Linked DNA regions of Homo sapiens. The protein of the gene in region 1 interacts with the protein of each later gene in a pairwise test. Each region holds a gene or a part of one and is shown on either strand. Other genes may lie near its edges.

What was found. The genes of interacting proteins can lie anywhere in the genome.
Region 2: the proteins of SCLY (region 1) and LNX2 interact in binary tests that used the Homo sapiens proteins (3 or more experiments, as listed by UniProt).

The regions. Positions count from the first base shown.
Region 1 is NC_000002.12:238,084,996-238,092,023, reverse strand, and holds part of SCLY (selenocysteine lyase), read right to left. Parts: intron 807-7,028; coding exon 770-806; intron 1-769. UniProt on the Homo sapiens protein: Catalyzes the decomposition of L-selenocysteine to L-alanine and elemental selenium.
Region 2 is NC_000013.11:27,575,511-27,582,538, forward strand, and holds part of LNX2 (ligand of Numb protein X 2), read right to left. Parts: intron 6,294-7,028; 5' UTR 6,194-6,293; coding exon 5,787-6,193; intron 1-5,786.

The DNA.
Region 1 (7,028 bases):
ACAGGGAATCCATTCATACTCTTCCCAAGGCCCGGCCTCCTGGGCGCTAAGCCCTTTCTCTGTACTGGGGATACTGAGGCCGACATGGCCAAGCCCCTGCTCTCGGGGAAGCAGAAGGTGGGGCATACATCTGAACACACTACAGAGAAACATCAGATAGGGGAAATAAAGCAGTGTCAGGGATAGAGGGTGACAGCAGGGGACATGGGGGAACCAATGTAGCTGTGGTTCATGGAGGGTTGCTTGAAGGTGGTGGCCTTTGACCAGAGGCCGCACAGTGAGGGAGCAGCCTGCAGACGCCGAGGTGTAACCAGTACCTCTGCCTTCGCACGGCAAAACCTGAGCCTGGTTACTGTCGCAGAAGCAGGACAGGCCCCAGTGGAGGGCTGGTGGCAGGTGCTGGATTGGCCACCCCACAGACCAATCGGGGACAGAACGTCGATGGTGCGGGGGCTGCCGACGCCTTTGGGAATGGTGAACCTGCAGCTTGACACTTCACCTCTGCTGTAACAGTATCACTGTTTCTCATGTCAGAAGAGACACAGACAAGGAGTTTTTCCCTTTTAAATGCTAAACAAGTGCCACTAATCCACAGATCTGAAAAAGTACAGCTCTCCAGGTTGATAAATCAGATTCCAGGCTTTTTCTTGTCAGTCCGCTTATGAGATCACGAATATGATCTCCCTAAAGCCCCAGATTCCTACTAGAGCCGCTGGGGACACTGATGACAAAGCAATCAACTCATCTCCTCAAGCTCACCAGGGCTCACCTTCCCAAGGCCAGCAATCATTGGGGTGTTCTCTGTCCTGTAAGAAACAAGGGATTAAGCAAGAATAAACAAATGTCTCAGGAAGGAATCCTGTCTCCATGAAAGTCATTGTGTTAAAATAAAATCAAACTCACGCTACATCTTTCCTAAGCACGCGCCATGTGGCTATCTCAATGGCAGCTGCAGGCCCCAGAAACCTCCCCTGCCAAGTTTTCACTTGCCCTGGCCCAGTGAAGGTCAACGAGGCCCACTGTGGGTGATGTGTTGGGTGTTCACTGTGACAGTTCTATCTGGACCCTTTTCCTACCCAAAGCAAGCACTCTGCCTCCTGTAGGCCCCAAGGCACAGCTCTCTTTAGTCCTCACTGCCAAATCAGTATAGTATGGAACAGGGGAGAACCCTTTGTTCTCAACATTTCAGGCATCAGCAAACAAGAGGGGTGTGTGTGTGTGTGTATGTGTGCAAGCGCGTGTGGGTGTGCACACACACAGGAGATGGGCAAGAGACCCCTAAAGACAATGGCTTGCATACTCTGACCTAACAAACCGAAAAACAGAACTCATTACCCTATTTTCAGGAAAAAAAAATTAACTTAATAATTAATTTCTTAATTTTTTTTTAGATGGGGTCTCGTTCTGTTGCCCAGGCTGGAGTGCAGTGGATCTCGACTCACTGCATCCTCCACCTGCCGGGTTCAAGTGATTCTCCTGCCTCAGCTTCCTGAGTATCTGGGATTACAGGCATGTGCCGCCATGCCCAGCTAATTTTTGTAAAGACAGGGTTTCACCATGTTGGTCAGGCTGGTCTCGAACTCCTGACCTCGTGATCCAGCCACCTCGGCCTCCCAAAGTGCTGGGATCACAGGTGTAAGCCACTGCGCCCGGCCCATTAATTTCTTAAGTTTGCCTGAACAAAGTTTTCTTAAACCTCTGGACTCGGCTATTGCTTGTTTACCAATAGATATTTTCTCTGCACCCTCACCAGCATTTGGTGGTGTCTCTATTCTTATTTTAGCCATTCTGATAGGTGTTAGTGATATCTGGTGGTTTTAATTTGCATTCCCCCAATAACTAATGCTGTTGAACATCTTTTCCTGTGCTTATTACCTGGGTCTCCTCTTTGGTGAAATGTCTGTTTATATTTTTTCCCTATTTTCAGATTGAATTTTTTATATTATTTTTGCTGTTGAGTTTTGTGAGTTCTTTATATATTCTAGATACCATTTCTTTGTCAGATATGTCATTTGAAAATATTTTTTCCTAGATTTAGCTTATCTTCCCATCCTCTTAATATGGTCCTTCCCAGAGCAAAAGCTTTAAATTCTGATGAAGTCTAATTTATCAATTTTTCCTTTTATGGATGCTTTTGGTGTCAAGTCTAAGAACTCTTTGCCTAGTCCTAGAACTTGAAGATTTTCTATTTTTAAACGGTTTTATTGCTTTATGTTTTACATTTAATTTCAAGATCTATTTTGAGACACTATTTTATGAGGTGTAAGACAGGGGTGTCTAATGCTTTGGCTTCCCTAGGCCACACTGGAAGAATTGTCTTGGGCCACATATAAAATACACTAATGATAGCTGATGAGCTTTAAAAAAAAAAAAAATCGCAAAAAAAAAAAAAATCAATGTTTTAAGAAAGTTTATGCATTTGTGTTGGGCTACATTCAAACCTGTCCTGGGCCGCATGCAGCCTGCAGGCCGCAGGTTGGACAAGCTTGGTGTAAGACTTGGGTCAAGGTTCATCTTTTGCCTATGGATGTCTAACTGCCTTGGCACGATCTGTTGAAAGGCTAACTTTCATCTGCTGAACTGATTTGCGTCTCCTGCGGTTGTATCTGCACCCGTAACTCATATGGGCCTATTTCTGTTTGGGTCTATTCTCCTCCATTGATCTACTTGCTGGGATTTTGATAGAAATTGTTAGGCTTGTATATCCACCTTTGACATCTTTGGTATGTAGAATCTTCCAATCTATGAACACGGCATGTGTCTCTGCTTAGATCTTCTTCTCATCCACATTATATTATTTTCAGCATATAAGTCCTTTATATTTTGCTAGTTTATATCTGAGTAATTTTGTTTCATTGTAAATGGTATTATATTTTTAATGTTACTGTCCACCTGTTCATTACCACTATATAAAAATAAGATAGATTTTTGCATGTTTATCTTGTGTCCTGCAACCTTGCTATCCTCACTTATTAGTTCTAGGAGTTTTCTTGTACATTCCTTGGGATTTTCTTTATAGACAATCGTGTGATCTGATTAGAAACAATTTTACCTCTTCCATTCTGATCTATATGCCTTTTGCTTCCTTTTCTTGCCTTACTACGCTGACCAGAACTTCCAGCACTATGCTGGATAAGTGTGGTGACAGTGGACATCCCTGCTTTGTTCCCCCAGCCACAGGAGTAAAACATTCAGGCTTTCACCACTAAGTATGATATCAGCTGTAGGTTTTATGTAGATGTTCTTTTTCAAGTTGAGAAAGTTCCCCACTAATCCTATTATTCTGAGTTTTTAACATGAATGGTTGAATTTTGTCAAATGCTTCTGCTGCATCAAATATGATCATGTTATCTTCTTTATTCATTAGCTTGTTAATATGGTAGATTACATTGATTGAATTTTTTTATTTTTGTAGAGCTGGGTCTTGCAGTTCACCTAGGCTGGCCTTGAACTCCTGGCCTCAAGTGATCCTCTCGCCTTGGCATCCCAAAGTACTGGGAGATTACAGGCATAAGCCACTGTGACCTGCCTTGATTGCATTTTTTCTTTTCTTTTCTTTTTTTGAGATAGAGTCTTGCTCTGTTGCCTAGGCTGAAGTGTGGTGCTGCCATCTCAGCTCATGCAAACTCTGTTACCCAGGTTCAATCGATTCTTGTGCCTCAGCCTTCCAAGTAGCTGGGATTACAAGCGTCTGCCACCACACCTGGCTAATTTTTGTATTTGTAATAGAGGCGAGATTTCACCATGTTGGCCAGGCTGGGCCCGAACTCCTGACTTCAAGTGATTTACCCGCCTTGGCCTCCCAAAGTTCTGGGATTGCAGGCATGAGCTACCACTCCCGGCTCTAGATCGCATTTTGAATATTGAACCAGCCTTGCATCTGTGGAATAAATGCCACTTGGTCACAGTGTATCATTCTTTATTTTTTTGAGACAGAGTCTCACTTTGTCACCCAAACTGGAGTGCAGTGGTGTAATCATAGCTCATGCAGCCTTGACCTCCCACGCTCACTCAAGCAATCCTCCTATCTCAGCCTCCTGAGTAGCTGGGATTATAGGCATGTACCACCATGCCCAGTTAATTTTTTTATTTTTTGTAGAGGGGTCTCACTATGGTGCCCAGCCTGGTCTTGAACTCCTGGGCTCAAGTGATCCTGATCCCCTGCCTCAGCCTCCCAAAGTGCTGGGATTACACGCGTGAACCACCACACCCAGCAGTGTATAATTCTTTCTATGTATTGCTGAATTCTATTTGTAAACATTTTGTTAAATATTTTTTGCATCAAAATTCATGAGGATGTTGGTCTGTAAAGGATTTTTTTTGTACTGTCTTTATCTGGTTTTAGTGTCAGGATAATACTAGCTTCATAAAATGAACTGGGAAGTTGTCCTTCCTCTTTATTTTCTGGAAGAGACTGTATAGAAATGTTAATTCTTCTTTAAACAAAGAATTCTTCGATAGAATTCTCTAATGAAACCACCGGGCCTGAAGACTTCTCTTTGGGGAGTTTTAAAGCTGTAAGTTCAATTTCCTAATGGTTATAGAGCTATTCAAATGATCTATTTTATATCAAGTGAGTTGTGGTAGTTTGTGTTTTTTGAGGAAGTGGTCAGTTTCATCTAAGTTGTCAACTTCCTATGTGTAGAGCTGTTTGTGGCATTCCCTCATTATCCTTTTGATGGCTGCAGGGCCTGGAGTGGTACTCCTTGTTTCATTCCTGATGTTATAACTTCTCTGTTTTTTTGGTCAGTCTTGCTAGAGGTCTGTCCTGGGCTCAAGCAATCCTACCATCTATCTCAGCCTCCCACATAGCTGAGACTACAGGCCCGTGCCACCACATCCAGCCATTTTTTTTTTTTTTTGTAGAAACAGGATTTCACCATGTTGCTCAGGCTGGTCTTGAACTCCTGGCCTCAAGCAATCTACCTGCCTTGACCTCCCACAGTGCTAGGATTAGAAATGTGAGCCACCACGCCCAGCTAATGTTGTCTTTTTTTTTTTTTTCAGACGGAGTTTTGCTCTTGTTGCCCAGGCTGGCGTGCAGTGGTGCGATCTCGGGTCACCACAACCTCTGCCTCCCGGGTTCAAGCGATTCTCCTGCCTCAGCCTCCCAAGTAGCTGGGATTATAGGCATGCGCCACCACACCCGGCTCATTTTATATTTTTAGTAGAGATGGGGTTTCTCAATGTTGGTCAGGCTGGTCTCAAACTCCTGACCTCAGGTGATCCACCGGCCTTGGCCTCCCAAAGTGCTGGGATAACAGGCGTGAGCCACCGTGCCTGGCCAATATTGTCTTTTTTTTTTTTTTTTTTTTAAAGAGACAGGGTCTTGCTCTGTTGCCCAGGCTGGAGTGCAATGGTGTGATCATAGCTCACTGCAGCCTCGAACTTCTGGGCTCGAGTGATCCTTCCCCCTCAGCCTCCTGAGTAGCTGGGACTACAGGCACGCACTGCCATGTCGGCTAATTAAAAAAAATTTTTTAGAGATGAGATCTTGCTATGTTGCCCAGGCTGGGAACTCCTGTCCTCAAGCAATCCTCCTGCCTTGGCCTCCCAAAGCAGGGGGATTATAGGTGTGAGCCATCGTGTCAGCCTGTGTTGTTGTCACTTTGCCAGTTCCAGTGAAGCACAGACCTCATCTCCTATTATGTTCCTTTACCTTTGCCTTTCTATAATTATCTTAAATATGTCCTTTATGTACATTTTGAACCACATCAGATATTGCTAAGATTTTTGCTTCTGCTATCAAACGTAATTCAGAAAACTCTAAAGAAGAAGGAAAGCCTATTGTATTTGGTGATAAATTCTTAGTTTTTCTTCATCTGAGAATGTTTTGATTACTTCTTCATTCCTGAAAGATATATTCACTGGGTACAGGATTCTAGCTTGACGGTTTTCTCTGAGCACTTGAAGAAAAATAATTGTGTCCCTTTCTTCTGGTCTTTCTGGTTTCTGATGAGAAATTCAGTCATCCAAATTCTTTTTCCCATACTGGTGAAGTGTCATCTTTCTCTGACTGCTTTAGAGAATTCTGTCTTTCATTTTTAGAAGTCTAATCATATGTCTCTGGCATAGATTTCTTTGCGTTTATGCTATTTGGGGTTTACTCAGTTTCTTGATTCTGTATGTTTATGTCTCTTGCCAAATTCAGGAAATTTTTTAGCCATTATTTCTTCAAGCACTTTTTCAGGCTGTCATCTTTCTCTGTTTCAGGGATTTCAATGAAACGAATGTTATATCATTTGTTATCGTCTCATAGGTCCCTGAAGCTCTATTTTAAACCCCATTCTTTTTATTTTTTTGAGACAGAGTCCCGCTCTGTTGCCCAGGCTGGAGTGGCACGATCTCGGCTCACTGCAACCTCTGCCTCCTAGGTTCAAGGGATTCTCCTGCCTCAGCCTCCCGGGTAGCTGGGACTATAGGCGTGTGCCACCAAGCCCGGCTAATTTTTTGTGTATTTTTTTTTTTCAGTAGAGATGGGGTTTCACCGTGTTAGCCAGGATGGTCTCGATCTCCTGACCTTGTGATCCGCTCACCTCGGCCTCCCAAAGTGCTGGGATTACAGGTGTGAGCCACAGCACCCAGCCGAAGACCCACTCTATTTCTTCTCTGTGGTCTGGATTTCTATTGTTCTGTCTTTCAGCTCATAGATTTCTTTCTCTGTCCTCTTATTTTTCTATTAAGCCCATCCACTGAGCTTTATATTTTGGCTGCTGCTGTTCTTAGTTCTACAATTTCCAATTTCCATTTGGTTCTTCTTTTATGTTGTCCTTCTCTTTGCTGACACTTTGTTTCACTTGTTTCAAGGGTGTTCACAATTTCTCATTGAAGCATTTTTACTGTGTCTGCTGTAAAATATTTGTTAGATAATTTTAACATCATCATCTTAGTGCAGGCGTATATTGATTATTATTGTTCATTCAATTTGAAATCTTTCTAGTTCTTGGTATGATGAATGATTTTCACTTGAAACCTGGACATTTTTGCCTTACTTTATGAGAACCTGGATCTTATTCAATCTTTCTGTT
Region 2 (7,028 bases), on another chromosome or scaffold:
AATTCATTCCTTATTTTCCTGCCTTACTGCTTGAGTTGTGACATCTCATCTCCTGCCCTCAGACTGGGATCACTGGCTCTCCTAGTTCTCAGACCTTCTGACTGAGAAGGTCTGAATTATGCTACTGACTTCCCTGGGTTGCCAGCGTGCAGAGAGCAGAACGTGTAATTTTTCAGACTCCTTAATCATGTCAGCCAACTCCTCATATATTGGTTCTATTTCCTTACAGATCCCTGACTAATTCATTAGTGAAAATGAAGCTGGTATTCATTTAAAATAGACTGCTATAAACTAGGATGTTAATTGTAAGCCCCAGGGTAACCACTAAGAAAATAATTTTAATTAAGAGAAATGACACGGGAATTAAAATAGCATATTAAAAATATTTAACACAAATGGAAGAAATGGAGGAAAAAAGAAATAAGACATATAGAAACAAACAGCAAAATGGCAAATGTAAAGCCTACCTTATCAGTAATTACATTAAATTACATGAATGAAACATCCCAATAAAAAGTCAGTGACTGGCAGAATGGGCTACAAGAAACATAATCCAACTGTCTACAACAGACACACTTCAGATTCAAAGACATAAATAAAGCAAAAGACAGAAAAACATAACAAGATATGACAATTATAAACAGAAATTGTACCAAACAATGGCCCCAAAATACGTAAGTAAAAAATGACAAAGAGAGAAATAGACAAATCAACAATAAAGCTTTTGATACTCGACTTTCAATACTAACAGAACAACTAGACATGGAACCAGAAAATAGACCCTTTAACACTATAGACCAATTAGACCCAATAGACATATGGAGCACTCCATCCATTAACAGCAGAATTTACATTATTCCCAAGTACACACAGGACATTTTCCAAGACAGGCCATGTGCTAGGCCATTTTAAAAAAGGCCTCAAGGCTGGGCATGGTGGCTCACGCCTGTAATCCTAGCTCTTCGGGAGACCTAGGTGGAGGATCACCTGAGCTCAGGAGTTTGAGACAAGCCTGGTGCAATATGGCAAGACCCCGTCTCTACTAAAAGCACAAAAAAAAAAAAAATTAGTTGGGCATGGTGGAGTGCGCCTGTAGTCCCAGCTACTCGGATGCTGAGGCACAAGAGTCACTTGAACCCAGCAGGTGGAGGCTGCAGTGAGCCAAGATTGCACTGCTTCACTCTAGCCTGGGTGACAGAGCGAGATGCTATCTCCAGAAAAAAAAAAAGAAAAGAAAGGCCTCAATAAAATTTAAAGGATTGAACAATACACATTATGATTTCTCATTGCAATTAATTCCAAATGGATCAAAAACTGAATTATAAGAGAGAAAACTAGAAAACTCTTAGAAGAAAACGTACATGTAAATTTTTGTGACCTTGAATTGGGCAATGTTTTCTTAGATATGACACCAAAAGCATAAGCAAACAACAATGAACTTCATAAAAATTAGATATTTGTTCTTTAAAGGATGTAGGAAAGTGAAAAGACAACTGACAGAATGGGAGAAAATATATGCAAATCATATATCTGGTAAGGGTCTAGTATCCAGAATACATAGAAAATTCTTACAACTTAGCAAAAAGACAAATAATCCAATATAAAAATGAACTAATGATGTTGAGCATGTCATGTGCTTACTGGCCACTTGAGTATCTTTGGAGAACTATCTATTCAAATCCTTTGCCCATTTAAAATTGGATTTATCTTTTCATTTCTAAGAGTTCTTTATATATTCTGGATACTAGAATACACATGATTTGCAAATACATATATCTGCTTTTTCACACCATACATGAAAAAACAATACTGATAAGAATGTGCTAAACACAAACTTCCCTCCAAGTTAAAGTGTGAATTTAAAAGTGCAATCATGCCTCAGCCTATCCTGATCCCTTTTTTTTCTATTTAGTTTTTCCTGGACCATCATCTAAAGCAGGGTTGTCCAATCTTTTGGCTTCCCTGGGCCACACGGGAAGAAGAATAATTGTCTTGGTCCACACATAAAATACACTAACATCAATGATAGCTGATAAGCTTAAAAAAAAAATAATCCCAAAAGCCTTCCTGGGCTGCATGTGGCACAGGCTGAACAAACTTGAACTTAAGGTTTCATAACCATCTCATGAACAAGAAAAGTTCTCAGCAAGGAAAGAGGCTTCTTTAAAGGTTTTCTATTGTAAACTTTTTATAATGGCATTAAACTGTAATTTTTAAGAGGAAAAGTAATTCTGAACCTTGCCATAAACTAGGGCACAAACACACAATTTAAAAACAACAACAACAACTAGCACTTACAATTACCAAAGGCTTAAATGTTAAATCGTTAAGGGTGGGTTGGAGATGAGTGGTAGAGCGTAGGAGGAATGCTATATAGCTGATGTTGCTTGGCAGAATTTCAAAGAAACAATCAAAATGTTACATATTTAGTACAACATGTAGAATATTTTTCAAAGGCTTTATTTCTCTGTTCAAAGATAGAGACTGTCCATGTCTCTTAAAATTCTTCATTTCACTAATACATAATCAGTTAAAAATAGCAGTTTTATTTAAACATGTTCATCTTTCATAAATATTTTATCTGTAGGAGAAAAATGTTTGCTCTTCTCAAATCAAAACACATTTGTTAAGGGCAGGATTTCATTCAAATAGGAAGGTGATCTTAAATGTGAAATTATCAAATTTATGCAAACTACTGCTAATGCTCTATTTCTACCAATAATTAAGAGATTCCTGTAAACCCTAAAAGCTCAAGAGCAAAGGCACATGACAGCCATGCAACTTTTATACAATGACTCTTTGTTGCTGATGCTAAAATCTTATGAATTTCAATGAAACTTACAGACTTACCAATTTCTAACAAACAAGTGAGATTTGTATACCGAGAAGCCGCAAACAGTCGTAGTAATCATATTCTGCGCCGCATAACATCATTCTTCTTGCTAGTTTATGTTGGTTTTAGAACATGGCTGCAAATTTTTTTGACTTCCCATCACAAGGTGAAACCTATGTCCCCTTTTCCTTGGATATGGGTGGGTTTATGACTGCTTCCAACAGAGAAGGGATGCCAGGCAACTTCAAGGCTAGATCATATGAGGCCATGCAGCCTACTAGACACTGAACCACTTATGTAAGAACTTTAAATACCCTGAGGCTGTCATGCTGGGAAGGCTACCTGTAGCCTCTCCAGCTGACAAGTCCCACGCACCTAGTCATTCCCATCAAGGTGTCAGAAATGTGAATGAAGAAACCATCTTGGAAGTAGACTCTCCAGTTACAACTGTTGCAGTCCCTGGCTTTCAGCTCCTTCCCAGCTGTGGCACACATAAAGATAGCAGAGACAAGCCATCCCTGTTTCATCCTGTCTGCATCCTGACTCACAGAATCAACAAATGCTTGTTGTTTTATGTCAGTGTGTCTGGGGTGGTTAGTTTCTCAGCAATGAATAACTGAAACACAGATCAACAATTTAATTGGACTAACATGAGATGACTGTCAACTTTGGGCAAATAAACTGAAAGACTATAAAGACATGGTTCTGTTTCTAAAGGAATCTACAACCCGGCATTAGATTCTAACTTGCAGAGACTACCTAACACCTAGAAAAGTATCTGGCACATAGCAGATAATCAATATTTGCTGAATAAACAAATGAACTATATTATTTAGGGTTGAATGTTGTATAATATACATTTCTACCTGAATTTCAATGTTCTTATTTAAGAGAACAGAGAAAGGTCAGGCTGTTCATCACTATCTGTTCAAATGGCATATAAAAATCATATTACATTTTATAATTTTTTTACATTTATATACTCAGTAATCACTCTTAGCTGTCTGTATCAGGCAAATCACCACCTTTTCCAATCATCCATCTTTTCACTGTATCTTTCATGTTACAGGCCTAAGATACTTTAGAAATGATAAAATTGGTTACTTCAATACTAATAAGCACAGCTGGAAAATGAAACCTTCAACTGGATAAGCCTTTACCAACATGTAAATGAAAAGGCAGTTTGCAATTACCAAGGTTTTTTACATTCTCATTATAAATGGTTTGATAAGAAACACTAGTAATAGTTCAACTGCAAATTAAATTCTTGAATGCATGTTAAAGGAATATTCCTGAAAATCTGTGAAACTGTTATCTTTCAGCTCTCAAAATCATAAATAACTGAACTGACATTTCATTCAGTTCCTCTAACATCTCATAACTGATGTTTAGAAAAGAAGCCTATACACTGAAAAGAACAGTTCTACTGAAAGAAGCAGCCTGAAATATTCTTCAGCCATAACTAGTCCTGACTCAGACTAGTATATTCAAAAGACCAGTGTCAGTTTCCAGGAGGCCTCTGCCATCATGTTCAGATTCTATGCTTGCTGGTTACAGAAGATATAAAAAAATGCAATGCTACATTATTACACGCATTTTCAAAAGTCTGTCTATCCTACTCTATCTTACCTCCTAGTTCTAGACAACACAGTTTAGAGTTAAGCATTCTATAAATCTAAATGTTTCCAACATTTTAATAACATCTTTGTTTTTTTCATTGTTTCTCATGTCTTAACTCTGATGTTTAGAAATAAATATCAACAATATATTGATACAAAATGAATGTGTATTTCATGTGCACATGAATGAAACTTTTGCTACATAGCAGCAGAGAACATGACTTGACCTACGATAGAGTCAACATGGTTTATTAGAATAGTAAACAAGAACAGTAAAGCTTGAGTCTAACTACAGCATTAACTAAATTTTTGTGACTCAGTCTCCTTATTCATAAAATGAGGGGGATTAGATAATCTCCTTCAAGTCTATGATTTTATGTGTGAGTATAATAGCAAGCCATTCTATATCAGACTTACACTCTTACATCTAAGTCCAGTATGATGTAGTATGCATTGTTTTTCACAGCAATCGAGATTACTGCAGATTTATACTGTAAAACTGGCTTAACTTGAAATTAGAAACCAGTATTTATTTCTGCCATTTTATGTGATTCTACACAAATGACGTATACTGTAACTCTTCCTAAGTTAAAGATCAAGTCTTTTAGCAAAATCAAATTATAAAACTCATCAGCTAAATAAATTACTTAACCTTTTAAAAAGCTTTTATGAGAACAGAAATCCCCACTAAATATTTAGTTTTCCAACTCCTAATTCTTGTTCAGTCTAGTCCCTGAACCCAGAATCTTTACAAGATCTTAGCAAATAAAATAATGTATTTATTTCCATATTGCAACAAAATTATCGTTTTTATTGGCTGCATAATATCCCACTGAGTTTATGTGCATAGTATTTTTTAACCCTTCCCTACTTTTAAATAACTGATTCCAATTTACCAAACTATGCACAATGTTGCACTGAACATATTTACATACAATTTTTCCTGCTTTTAGATTATTTCCTTAGGATAATAAACTAGATAAAAGGAGATTTACATTCATATAGTTTTTAAAAACAAACTGCCAAACTGCTTTATAGAAAGAATCTATCATAATATCCTGTCATCTATTTGAATATATCAGTTTCATATTACAGCAGCAGAAATATTAACAGGTATAAAACAGTACTTCCTCACTGTAGTTTTTGTATTCATGTTTTTGATAAATAATGTTAAATACTGTTCCATACAACTTATTTATTGTATCTCTTCTGTACTTGATTCACCCATTTACTTACTAGTGCTCTGGTTTGTTTTGTTTTAATCAAGTTTTTATGTTCATTTGAACCACCTTTTTCCAAAATCTGGAGTTACTTCTTTTATATTTTTTGCTTACCTGTTTTTGAGATGTGCCTCCAGATCACAACGTTGCATTACATCTTTGCACACTGAAGAAAATGGACATAAAACTAATAATTTGTCTAGGAGTTTATGAACTAGAATACTAGACTTCTTGCACAACTTAAAATGAAGTCTTTTCCGGTCCAACGGACAGAAATCTTTCTCTTGTAAAAAGTTTCTGAGGCACTTGTAGCAGAATGTATGTCCACAGGGTGTGTCTAGTGGCTGCAGCAGAGGTTGAAGGCAAATATGGCAGACTAGGTCATCATCCACTTCATTCTGGTAATTGTACAAATGGTTTTCTCTTGTCCAGTGCTGTTGGCCACATTCAAAACACAGGGGGTTTAGAGAAGAGGAGGAGGTCTGTTCCACAGACACCATCTCATCACTTGTTGTTCCCATTTTGAATCAATTCTGTATCCTCATGTGTTAGACTTCCACTTCACGCTTGGTTTCCTTTAACAGACAGTGATGTATCTGACTAAAGTCAAGGTGTGTTTTTCTAGATAAGCAAAACAAACACATTAAAAAAGGTAATTAATATCAATCAAGATAGGTTAAAAGTATCAATGTAATATTACTGGTTAGCTTTTTTTAGTAAAAAATTAAAGGTTGAATCAGGTAATAAATTAGTCATAAAAAAAGAAATTAATTTTCTAGTTGGCTAAGAAGGACTTACACTGCCAAGTTCTTTTTTATTATAAGTTTTAATTGTCTCTTTTGATTTTTTTATTTATTTGCTTTTTGAGTCAGGGTCTTGCTCTGTCACCCAGGCTGGAGTGCAGTGGTGCAATCTCAGCTCACTGCAACCTCTGCCTTCCAGGCTCAAGTGACTCTCCCATCTCAGCCTCCCGAGTAGCTGGTACTACAGGTGCACGCCACCATGTCCTGTTAATTTTTTTGTATTTTTTTGTAGAGACAGGGTTTCCATGGTGGAAAGCCCAGGGTGGTCTTGAACTCCTGGACTCAAGCAATCAGCCCTCCCAAAGTGCTAGGATTACAGGTGTGAGCCACCGTGCCTGGCTCCCACTGTCAAGTTCTTGATAAAAAAACAACTTTTGATGAAAGGTAAAGACACCATAGATTATATAGTGTGACATAAGAAACAATCGATTTGTTTTACTGACTGAAATCCCCAAATATGTCACTGTTCAATGGTAGTTTTAAAGCCAATTAATTGTGCTAATAGTAATGCTGTTTGAGGTATATAATACATTTGCATGTCATCTTAGACATG